2 separate regions of the Homo sapiens genome follow, and region 2 is linked to region 1. Evidence: fine-mapped expression QTL. Tissue or cell type: monocytes after interferon gamma. Region 1 holds a variant in brackets; the other region holds the start of a gene. All regions are shown on one strand. Distances are from middle to middle.

Region 1 (5,828 bases):
AGTTCAAAAACCAAAAGGTATAAAAGGAAATACAGTAAAAAATTTCCTATCATATCACTGTCTAGAGTACTATTCCTTATATATTTTCCTGATTTTTGAGTATTTTAAAATGTGAGTGTTGGATATGAGTGTTGGATTTAAAAAGTTTTATGATAATTTGTGTATATTTGTGTGTGTGTGTGTGTGTGTGTGTGTGTATAGTAGTCCAAGACTATCAGTTTATGAATAATAAGAGGAGACCCATGGAAAACCAGTCCCTTTGACCAAGTTCACTCAGATAATCAGCAGCAGGGCTTGGACATTAATTACAGTTATCCAACATCCTTTGAGGTCTCACATGACAAATTACAAATATGGAGTGTAAATGTAACCCACTTTGCTAGGCAAAAAAAGCCCTGTTTTTTTAAAAAATATATATTTTTGGCTTATGGGCAACAGAAGCCAGGGAGACGTACAGTCAAACCTCATTTCTCATGGCTTTCATATCTGCAAATTCTCCTACTCATTAAAAGTTATTTATAACTCCCGAATCAATACCCACAGCACTTTTGTGATCATTGGCAGACATGTGCAGAAAAGAAAAAAAAATTGAGTTGTTGATTGCACACATTCCCAGCTGAATTTCAACAAAGCAACACTCTGCCTTCCCACTTCAGCTTTCTTACTATATGTGTGTCCTTTTTCTGTTTATTTAGTACCATGTTTTTCACACTTTCGTTCTTTTTGGTGGTGATTTTGCTGTTTAAAATGGCCAACAAGTGTAGTGCTAAGTGCTGCGTAGGGTTCTTAAGCACAAGAAGGCTATGATGTGCCTTATGGAGAAAATACGTGTGTTGGATCAGTTTCACTCAAGCATGAGTTATGGCGCTATTAGCTGTGAGTTCAATGTTAACAAATCAACAATATATGCTAAAGTGTCTTTAAACAGAAACACACATAAAACAAGGTTATATGTTTGGTTGGCAAAAATGTTATAACCAGAAGCTTGCAGAAACCTAACCCTGTATTTCCCTTAAGAGCAATGGTTCATTATTCACTAATTCAATGTTTACAGCAACTTTATAAACTATAACTACCATGAATAATGAGAATTGACTATGTTTTAGATCATAATACCTGAAGTGAAGTTTTCCATCATGGTTTTTAGTTCTTAGAGTCCATTTAAGTTTTTTAAAAATATGATAGCTATCCTATCACATCCCACATTCTTGAGATTAAAAAATTAATCTTTTATTTGGTACAGAAAAGGCTCCTGCGTGCATTTTTGGAGGGGCTGGACCGCTGAGGAAGTCATGGTTGGCTCAAGTGGTTTAAATGCATTGCTAATTTCATAGCCTCTGAACCACTTATGAAACAATACTGATGATATGTCAGTAGCTATGTTTGCAGCTCCTTCAGGAATGCTTATATCTTTTACTGCTGGTAAAGAAGAAATTTATAGTAATAGATTTTTTTTTTTTTTAGATAGAGTCTCACTCTGTCGCCTAGGCTGGATTACAGCGGCTTGATCACGGTTTACTGCAGCCTGGATCTCCCAGGCTCTCCTACTGTAGCCTCCCCAGTAACTAGGGCCCCCACACAGGCATCACCACACCCAGCTCATTTTTTTATGTTTTATAGAGACAGGGTCTTACTATGTTTTCCAGGCTGGTCTCAAACTTCTGGGCTCAAGCAATCCTCCTACTTTGGCCTCCCAAAGTGCTGAAATTACAGGCATGAACCACTGCACCTGGTTTATGGTCATCTTAAGTAGAGACTTATGAGTGCGTATCATTGTATCACCAATCTGAGACTCAATTTTATCTTTCTGTTAATAGACAATGCAGTTTTTCTGTTAATTACAATGAAAATCAAGGGTTGCTTAGCAAGTTTTTACTCATAACTCCAAGTTTTGTGACTTATAGTGAGAAATGGGTATAATTCTTTGTGATTTGTTAAAATGCAGTATTTCGAGGAGGGATAACATATAAAATTTAACAGTTTCCTATCATTATTTTTATCCTTTTGAACCACTGTATACTACAGATAGACAAAGGCAGCTTTGGCCACTTACTCCTCAGTGTGACTAAGTTGACCAGATGTTTTCCAGACCACAGGTTCTGTCAAGAGACAGTGTGGAGAGAAATGGGTAGGCAGGTATGGAAAGAAGAGTCAGAAACAGATAGTGAGCTAATCTCTACAAATGGCTCGTTATGGCCTGAGCTGTGTTCTCCTCCCCGCAAAAAGATATGTTGGAGTCGTAATCCCCAGTACCTCAGAATGTGGCCTTATTTGGAGATTCGATATTTACAGAGGTAAGCAAGTTAAAATGAGATCACTATAGTGGGTCCTAATTCAATACGACTGGTATCCTTACAAAAAAGGGGAAATTTAACCACAGATACAGACACACACATAGGGAGAGTGCTAGTGAAGGTGAAGTCAGAGATTGGAATGATGTAGCAGAAGCCTAGGAATGCCAAAGATTGCCAGCAAACCACCAGAAGCTGGGAGAGCCACATGGAACAGATTCTCCTTCACAGTCCCCTGAAAGAACCAACTCTCCTGACACCTCGATTTCAGACTTCTAGCCTCCAGAGCTGGGGTCAATGAGCTTCTCTCATTAAGCCATCATCCAGTGTATGGTACTTTGTTACAGCAGTCTTAGCAAATGCATGGTTCCTCACTGGAACCATGAATTTCCATGCATTTATTTCATTTAAATAATAAAACGGATCCCCTTTGTGGCTTGTAGTTCTGTTCCATTTCAAAAATCCAGAAAAAAGATTTGTTCAGAAGCTAGAAATGATGAACTGGATCTTGCCCAAGGTCATAAAACCACAAAACCCTTTACAGAGCACAAAAGTCTGATTTTTCAAAGCTTCTCTCAAAAGATGGGTCACTCCTTAGTCATTTAGGCCACTGACAACTGCCCTGGACT[C/CTTTATTTATTTA]TTTATTTATTTATTTATTTATTTATTTATTTAATTTTTTTGAGACAGAGTCTTGCTTTGTCGCCCAGGCTGGAGTGCAGTGGCGTGATCTGAGCTCACTGCAAGCCCTGCCTCCCGGGTTGACGCCATTCTCCTGCCTCAGCCTCCCAAGTAGCTGGGACTACAGGCACCCGCCACCACGCCCGGCTAATTTTTTGTATTTTGTTTAGTAGAGACAGGGTTTCACCATGTTAGCCAGGATGGTCTCGAGGTCCTGACCTTGTGATCCACCCGCCTTGGCCTCCCAAAGTGCTGGGATTACAGGCGTGAGCCACTGCGCCTGGCCTGGACTCTTACATATAATAAGCTTGACTTATCGTACAACTTATAATTGATGCTTTCACGTCATGGGAAGATCAAATTAATGCAGAGAGCGACTACGTTTCTGGTGGGAGAGCAGCAGGGGTCTTGAGAGGAACAGCAGTGTTGACTGTTTCGCTACCTACTCTGGGTGCTGATTACATCTTTCTTTCGTGCAGGCAAATCCACTTGGAGCTATTTTGGGCTCACTGTGGGCATCATTCTTTGTATACTCTGCTCCTTTCCCCCATAGTTTCTCTATTGATGGGGGATTACTAAAGAATGAAGAAAAGAACAAAATGAAAGTGGCTTTTGAAAAATTTTAAATGACTGTCACTATGTAACATATTCATTATTTCATGTCTCCACTGGACATTTTGGAGATGTGAGCCTTGCAATACCTACATGAATGCTTCTATGATTATGATTATTGTTTTGCTCTTCGCCTAACAACTTGCCAAGTATTGTCAACCTCAGTGTGTGAGATGGGGTCCACTCAAACATCAGGGCCGAAGTCAGGTAGTTCAGTTAAGTGAATTTGATACCAGGAACTAGTTACAAAGGAGTTGGAAGGGCTGGAAAGCCAAACTGGAGAAGAAGGGGAACCCCAGAGTAACAATAGCAGGAAGCCTCTACCGTCTACCTCTAGAACTGGGGAGGAGCTGAGTTAACAGAGTCCTGGAGCCATTGCTGGGGAAGAAGAACCCCAACTGCAGAGGAAAAGTGGCCATTGTGAAGAAGGTGATGGTGGAGAAGTCGTCTGAATCAAAGGGGAGAGGATATGTTGGCTCCTTTATCTTTTTATCTTTCATTGTCCTAATTCCTTCTGGGCATGGTTAAATGAGCCCAGGAAATGCAGTTGGCAGGAATCAGCTTCCTGTGACATAGACAGAGTAAGAGAAGGACAAAAATAATGAATCTGAGAGCAAGCAGGCAAATGACCAGCACATTAAGCCTAGCACACAGTATGTTATACGGGATTTGGGGTAGCAAAAGATGAAGGCAGGTCAGAGAAGCCACAACTAGGGGATGGGCAAGGTCAATGAGGTATGACGGGTATTGTATACAGGAAGAGGGTCATAAACAGGAGTGGAGTCAATACAGGAGACTAACATATACACATCATAAATATTAGTAGAGAAGCATAAAATAGTCTCCTGGAGATCAGGGAAACAGGAAATTATAGGTTTTCAGGATAATTCAGCCATATCCAGGAAACACACACAGTGAAGTAACAAAGAGTCAATAGGCTTAGAGTGGTACAATTCATTATGCACATGTAGGAATTCATTCCAAATAATAGGCTGAAATGTAGACATGAGAATCCAAAAAAGATGTTTTCTTAGTTTTTGCCAATATCTTAGCTACGTTTTTTTTGGTTCAACAAAGTAAGTTAACAGTCATATCTGCTTGGAAATTGTATTTAGGCCAGGTGCAGTGTCTCACGCCTGTAATCCCAGCACTTGGGGTGGCTGAGGCAGGAGGATCCCTTGAGCCCAGGAGTTAGAGGCTGCAGTGAGCGACAACTACACCACTGCATTCCAGTCTGGGTGACAGAACAAAAACTTATTAAAAAAAGAAAAAAAAAAGGTCGGGCGCGGTGGCTCACGCCTGTAATCCCAGCACTTTGGGAGGTCGAGGTGGGCGGATCACGAGTCAAGAGATGGAGACCATCTTGGTCAACATGGTGAAACCCCATCTCTACTAAAAATACAAAAATTAGCTGGGCATGGTGGCATGCACCTGTAGTCCCACCTATTCAGGAGGCTGAGGCAGGAGAATCGCTTGAACCCGGGAAGCGGAGGTTGCAGTGAGCTGAGATTGCACCACTGCACTCCATCCTGTCGAGACTCTGTCTCAAAAAGAAAAAAAAGGAAAAGAAACTATTGAAATAGCTGATATTAGTTTGCTTACTTGTCGTTACTCTTTTTCATGATGGATTATAAAGAAAAGTTATAACTATTTGAATTTTCTGCTGATTTGAAGTCTCTATAAACAGTACATTCCTTTTTGGTACACAGAGGGCACTTATCTGCAAGAAAGGCAAAGAAAATGGAAAAGTTAATGAAAGAGGAATCATCCAATCCACGAACAGAATGAAACCACATACACAGTGAAGAAACTTGTCTTACATTTTCTTCCTTATATTACTTATCATTCATGGTAGTGACTACTTTGGGGCTTGAGTAAAGCTTCTCTAATTTATTCCATGTAGCATCATATGTGAAAAAGACAAATAGATACTTTAGACATGATAATAACACTTTATTTTTTATTTATTTGTTTATTTTGAGACAGAGTTTTGCTCTTGTTGCCCAGGCTGGAGTGCAATGGTGCAATCTCAGCTCACTGCAACCTCTGCCTCCTGGGTTCAAGCGACTCTCCTGACTCAGCCTCCCAAGTAGCTGGGATTACAGGCACGCATCACCACGCCCAGCTAATTTTTTGTAATTTTAGTAGAGACAGGGTTTCTCCGTGTTGGCCGGGCTGGCCTCAAACTCCTGACCTCAGGTGATCCACCCACCTTGGTCTCCCGAAGTGCTGGGATTATAGGTGTGAGCCACCATGC
Region 2 (5,000 bases), 740 kb before region 1:
GGTCACACTGTTTATGAGGACAGTACAGGAATACAGACATGCCATTTTGCCTGAAAAAATCCATCACCCAGGGAGGTGACACAATTTTGCAGAAATGTTCTATTTCCTCTGAAGGATACATTCTTTAAACCTTTGGGAAATTCATTCATAGTCTTCCTCCTTTGAAGGATTAACTCTCTGGACACAAAGTGTTTGATTCTGATTTGTTGGTTGGAAGATGTGTTGGTTGAGAGAAAGATTCTGATTTGTTGGTTGAAAATAGACTCATCAAGATCAACTGCTGTAGTAGTAAATATTTTGACATTTTGTCTGTATTCCTGTGCTGCCCTCACAAGCTGCATCACCTTGAGTGAGTCATTCATACTTTTTTGTTTGTTTTTGTTTTGGAGATGGAGTCTTACTCTGTTGCCTAGGCTGGAGTGCGGTGGCGTGATCTTGGCTCACTGCGACCTCCATCTCCTGGGTTCAAGTGATCCTCCTGCCTCAGCCTCCCGAGTAGCTGGGATTACAGGCACATGCCACCATCCCTGCTAATTTTTGCATTTTCAGTAGAGACGGAGTTTCACCATGTTGGTCAGGTTGGTCTTGAACTCCTGACCTCAGGTGATCCGCCCACCTCAGCCTCCCCAAGTGCTGGGATTACAGGTGTGAGCCACCGTGCCCAGCCCAGCCATCATTTTTGAAACACGTTTGAGAAATAGTGTCTTCCTTTGAGGGCCAAGGAGACATTTTTTTTGTTTATTTGTTTGTTTTTGTGAGGACTAGCTGAAGGGGGTGATGTATATTAACCTGCCTACTTATTTGCCTCTTCCCAGAGTGTGATGAATATTAGGGTTTAAAGTTTCTGAAGCATTTGTTAATAAAGCCCGGGGCTGGAGGTCAGAAGACCTGGATTTCTCTGCATACTTTTGCCATCAGCAAGCTGTGTGACCTTGGACAGATCCCTTTTTTGTCTAAATCTTTCTGAGTCTTCTTGAAAACAATGCCAGGTTGGGACAGGATGATTGCCAAGCTCCCGTCCAGCTCTAAAACACTGCAACGTATGCTTCTGCACCAGCACTGTCCATCCTGTAGATCATGCAGAAATTCTCTTCAACTTTTTCCTACCCATAAAATAGGAGCATGCTTACCTTTTTCCTAATGTTCCAGGCCCCGGGTCTAGAATATTGTAAGTAAGGAAGTTAATGTGTATCAGAGCCCATTATGGGCCAGAAGTTCTCCTCTTCCTTCCTACACCTGCTTCCTCCCTCCCTCCCTCCCTCTTTCCCTTCCTTCCTTCCATCCATTTGTGAAGAAGACATGATCACCCTCATTCTGAGAGTGAAGAGACAGAGGCTCAACTAATGAAATGATTTGTTCAAGGTCACACGGGTGGCACAAGGCAAGTGGCAGAGGTTGAATTTAGACCCATTCCTGTCCAAATGCTGAGTTTATGTCATCGTCCCGAGACCATAACTTTAAAGATGTAAGATAGTGGGAAAAGAGTTGATTTCAAAGCACCTCTCAGAAGGACTCACTTTACATCAGGGGTCAGCAGACTCAGGCCAAATCCGGTCCATTCCCCGCTTTTGCAAAGAAAGTTGTAGTGGAACACAGCTAGGCTTATTGATTTATGGATTGCCAACGTCCTTTTGTGAAACAGACAGCTGAGCTGAGTAATCGTGGCGCACAAAACCTAAAATATTTACTATCTCGTCCTTTACAGAATGTTTGCCAATCTATGGTCCGGAGTCCAAGGCTGTCCATTTTTCAAAGAACACAAAGTGACATGAGACTGTCCCATGTGCAGGGAGCCCTATCATTTTATTATGAAAAAACGGCCTTTCTGCTCAAATCTGTTTTTTAAAAAGTCAACAAACAGACTCTGGGTACCTGTCAGGAACAGTAGGGAGTTTGGTTTCCATTGTGCTCTTCTTCCCAGGAACTCAATGAAGGGGAAATAGAAATCTTAATTTTGGGGAAATTGCACAGGGGAAAAAGGGGAGGGAATCAGTTACAACACTCCATTGCGACACTTAGTGGGGTTGAAAGTGACAACAGCAAGGGTTTCTCTTTTTGGAAATGCGAGGAGGGTATTTCCGCTTCTCGCAGTGGGGCAGGGTGGCAGACGCCTAGCTTGGGTGAGTGACTATTTCTTTATAAACCACAACTCTGGGCCCGCAATGGCAGTCCACTGCCTTGCTGCAGTCACAGAATGGAAATCTGCAGAGGCCTCCGCAGTCACCTAATCACTCTCCTCCTCTTCCTGTTCCATTCAGAGACGATCTGCCGACCCTCTGGGAGAAAATCCAGCAAGATGCAAGCCTTCAGGTAAGGCTACCCCAAGGAGGAGAAGGTGAGGGTGGATCAGCTGGAGACTGGAAACATATCACAGCTGCCAGGGGCTGCCAGGCCCCAGAGGGCCTGAGAACTGGGTTTGGGCTGGAGAGGATGTCCATTATTCAAGAAAGAGGCTGTTACATGCATGGGCTTCAGGACTTGTGTTTCAAAATATCCCAGATGTGGATAGTGCGACCGGAGGGCTGTCTTACTTTCCCAGAGACTCAGGAACCCAGTGAGTAATAGATGCATGCCAAGGAGTGGGACTGCGATTCAGGCCTAGTTGAATGTGCTGACAGAGAAGCAGAGAGGGGCACCAGGGGCACAGCCCGAAGGCCCAGACTGATATGGGCAAGGCCTGTCTGTGCTGACATGTCGGAGGGTCCCACTCTCCAGGGACCTTGGTTTCCCCGTCTGTGACATCTGTGACATGAGAGTCACGATAACTCCTTGTGTGCCTTACAGGGTTGTTGTGAAAATTAAATGCACAGATAATAGCGTAACAGTATTCCGTGCATTGTAAAGAGCCTGAAAACCATTATGATTTGAAAATGGAATCGGCTTTGTGAGACCATCACTATTGTAAAGATGTGATGCTGATAGAAATGACAGGACTGCTTGTGCATGCCCTCTGCAGTGTGACATTCCAGCAGTGAAATCATGTTGGGGTGACTTCTCCCCCACTCTGACCTTTATGTTTGTCTGGGCCGAGGCTGCAAGTCGGGCTCTGTGGGTGTATGAGTGACAAGTCTCTCCCTTCCAGATATGGGGACTGTCTGCTTCCCTAGGTTGCCTCTCCCTGCTCTGATCAGCTAGAAGCTCCAGGAGATCCTCCTGGAGGCCCCAGCAGGTGATGTTTATCCCTCCAGACTGAGGCTAAATCTAGAAACTAGGATAATCACAAACAGGCCAATGCTGCCATATGCAAAGCACTTTGGTTTGCCTGGCCACCCCTCGTCGAGCATGTGGGCTCTTCAGAGCCACCTGATGAGGTGGGTACAGTTAGCCACACTTCACAGGTGAAGAGGTGAGGCACAGGTCCCAGGTCAGGCTGGCCAGAGCTCTGTTTATTACGTCTCACAGCTTTGAGTCCTGCTCTCAACCAGAGAGGCCCTTTACCAAGAAGAAAGGATTGGGACCCAGAATCAGGTCACTGGCTGAGGTAGAGAGGAAGCCGGGTTGTTCCCAAGGGTAGCTGCTCCTGCAGGACTCTGAGCAGGTCACCAGCTAATGGAGGAAAGGCTCTAGGGAAAGACCCTTCTGGTCTCAGACTCAGAGCGAGTTAGCTGCAAGGTGTTCCGTCTCTTGAAACTTCTACCTAGGTGCTATGGTAGCCACTAGTCTCAGGTGGCTATTTAAATTTATACTTAAATGAATGAAAATAGAAGAAAATTTAAAATCCAGACCCTTGGTCACACTATCCACATTTAAAGAGGTCAATAGCCACATGTGGTTAGTGGCCACCCTATTGGGCAGTGCAGCTACAGAACATTTTTGCATCCCAGAAAGTTCTTTTGGATGTTGCTGCTCTACAGCATGCTTTGCTGAAACAGAAGTGCCTTCCCTGGGAATCTCAGATGGGAAGCAAGTAAGGAGGGGAGTCAAATGTGGGCTCACTGCTCACCAGCTGTGAGGGTTGGGCCTGCCTCTTAACCATTGTCAGCCTCAGTCTTCTCATCCATGCATGCCGTGGGTATACTAAAATACTATACCCCTGGAAGAGCTGGATGCAAATTTGACAAGTTCTGGGGGACACAGGAAGGTGCCAAGCACAAGGCTGGGCACATGGTGGCTGTGCACTACAGCTGAGTCCTTTTCCTTTTCAGAATCTGGGATGTTAACCAGAAGACCTTCTATCTGAGGAACAACCAACTAGTTGCTGGATACTTGCAAGGACCAAATGTCAATTTAGAAGGTGAGTGGTTGCCAGGAAAGCCAATGTATGTGGGCATCACGTCACTTTGCCCGTCTGTCTGCAGCAGCATGGCCTGCCTGCACAAACCCTAGGTGCAATGTCCTAATCCTTGTTGGGTCTTTGTATTCAAGTTTGAAGCTGGGAGGGCCTGGCTACTGAAGGGCACATATGAGGGCAGCCTGAAGAGGGTGTGGAGAGGTAGAGTCTAGGTCAGAGGTCAGTGCCTATAGGCACAGTGGTCCCAGGGCCACAGCTGGGAAGGGCAAATACCAGAAGGCAAGGTTGACCATTCCCTTCCTCAAGTGCCTATTAAGGCTCCATGTTCCTATGTTGTTCAAACCCTAACTCAATCCCAAATTAATCCACCATGTATAAGGTTGAGCTATGTCTCTTATTCCTGGACACCATACTCAGCCATATTCTGGTCCACACATTAAACAAGCTGGATGACCTTGAAGAAGCTTCACCCACTCTGTTCCTCAGCTTTCCCTTCAGTGGGATGATATCAACTGGACAACAGGATGTGCGATTCTTTTAGTTCCAGCCTTCCAGGATGTTTTCACTCCCCTGTTTGTTGTTGTAGGATGGTATTACCTCCACCTTCCCACCTTCCCTATGCCCTGGTTCTGTCTCCTGTGCCTCGCTCTGAAAGTGGATGAGACCTACAATTCCTGTCCTGGTAGTTCTCCTAATGAACACACTGAAGCACGAGGAAGCTGAGATTTTTGTTGCTACATGAGAGCATGGAGGCCTCTTAGGGAGAGAG

Which allele goes with the higher level. Alleles are on the strand shown, and positions count from the first base shown. SD is a standard deviation of normalised expression in the study named.
In carriers of allele C in region 1, the expression in monocytes after interferon gamma of the gene that starts at base 2,168 in region 2 tends to be lower than with CTTTATTTATTTA alone (moderate effect, 0.63 SD a copy in Fairfax 2014).

The links. PIP is the estimated chance that this variant, and not a neighbour inherited with it, causes the effect.
Region 2: IL1RN starts here. The variant in region 1 is fine-mapped to the expression of IL1RN in monocytes after interferon gamma (Fairfax 2014, PIP 0.93).

Annotation. Positions count from the first base shown.
Region 1 is chr2:113,869,974-113,875,801 of GRCh38, forward strand. The region is part of intron 1 of ACTR3-AS1 (ACTR3 antisense RNA 1); the gene reads right to left. Among named protein-coding and RNA genes, the nearest start is that of ACTR3, 17 kb to the right of the region's middle. The variant C/CTTTATTTATTTA (reference allele first, on the strand shown) is at 2,921.
Region 2 is chr2:113,125,431-113,130,430 of GRCh38, forward strand. It overlaps IL1RN (interleukin 1 receptor antagonist), which reads left to right and starts at 2,168. Exons shown (of 4, transcript NM_173842.3): 1 at 2,168-2,310; 2 at 4,146-4,234. The coding sequence starts at 2,195.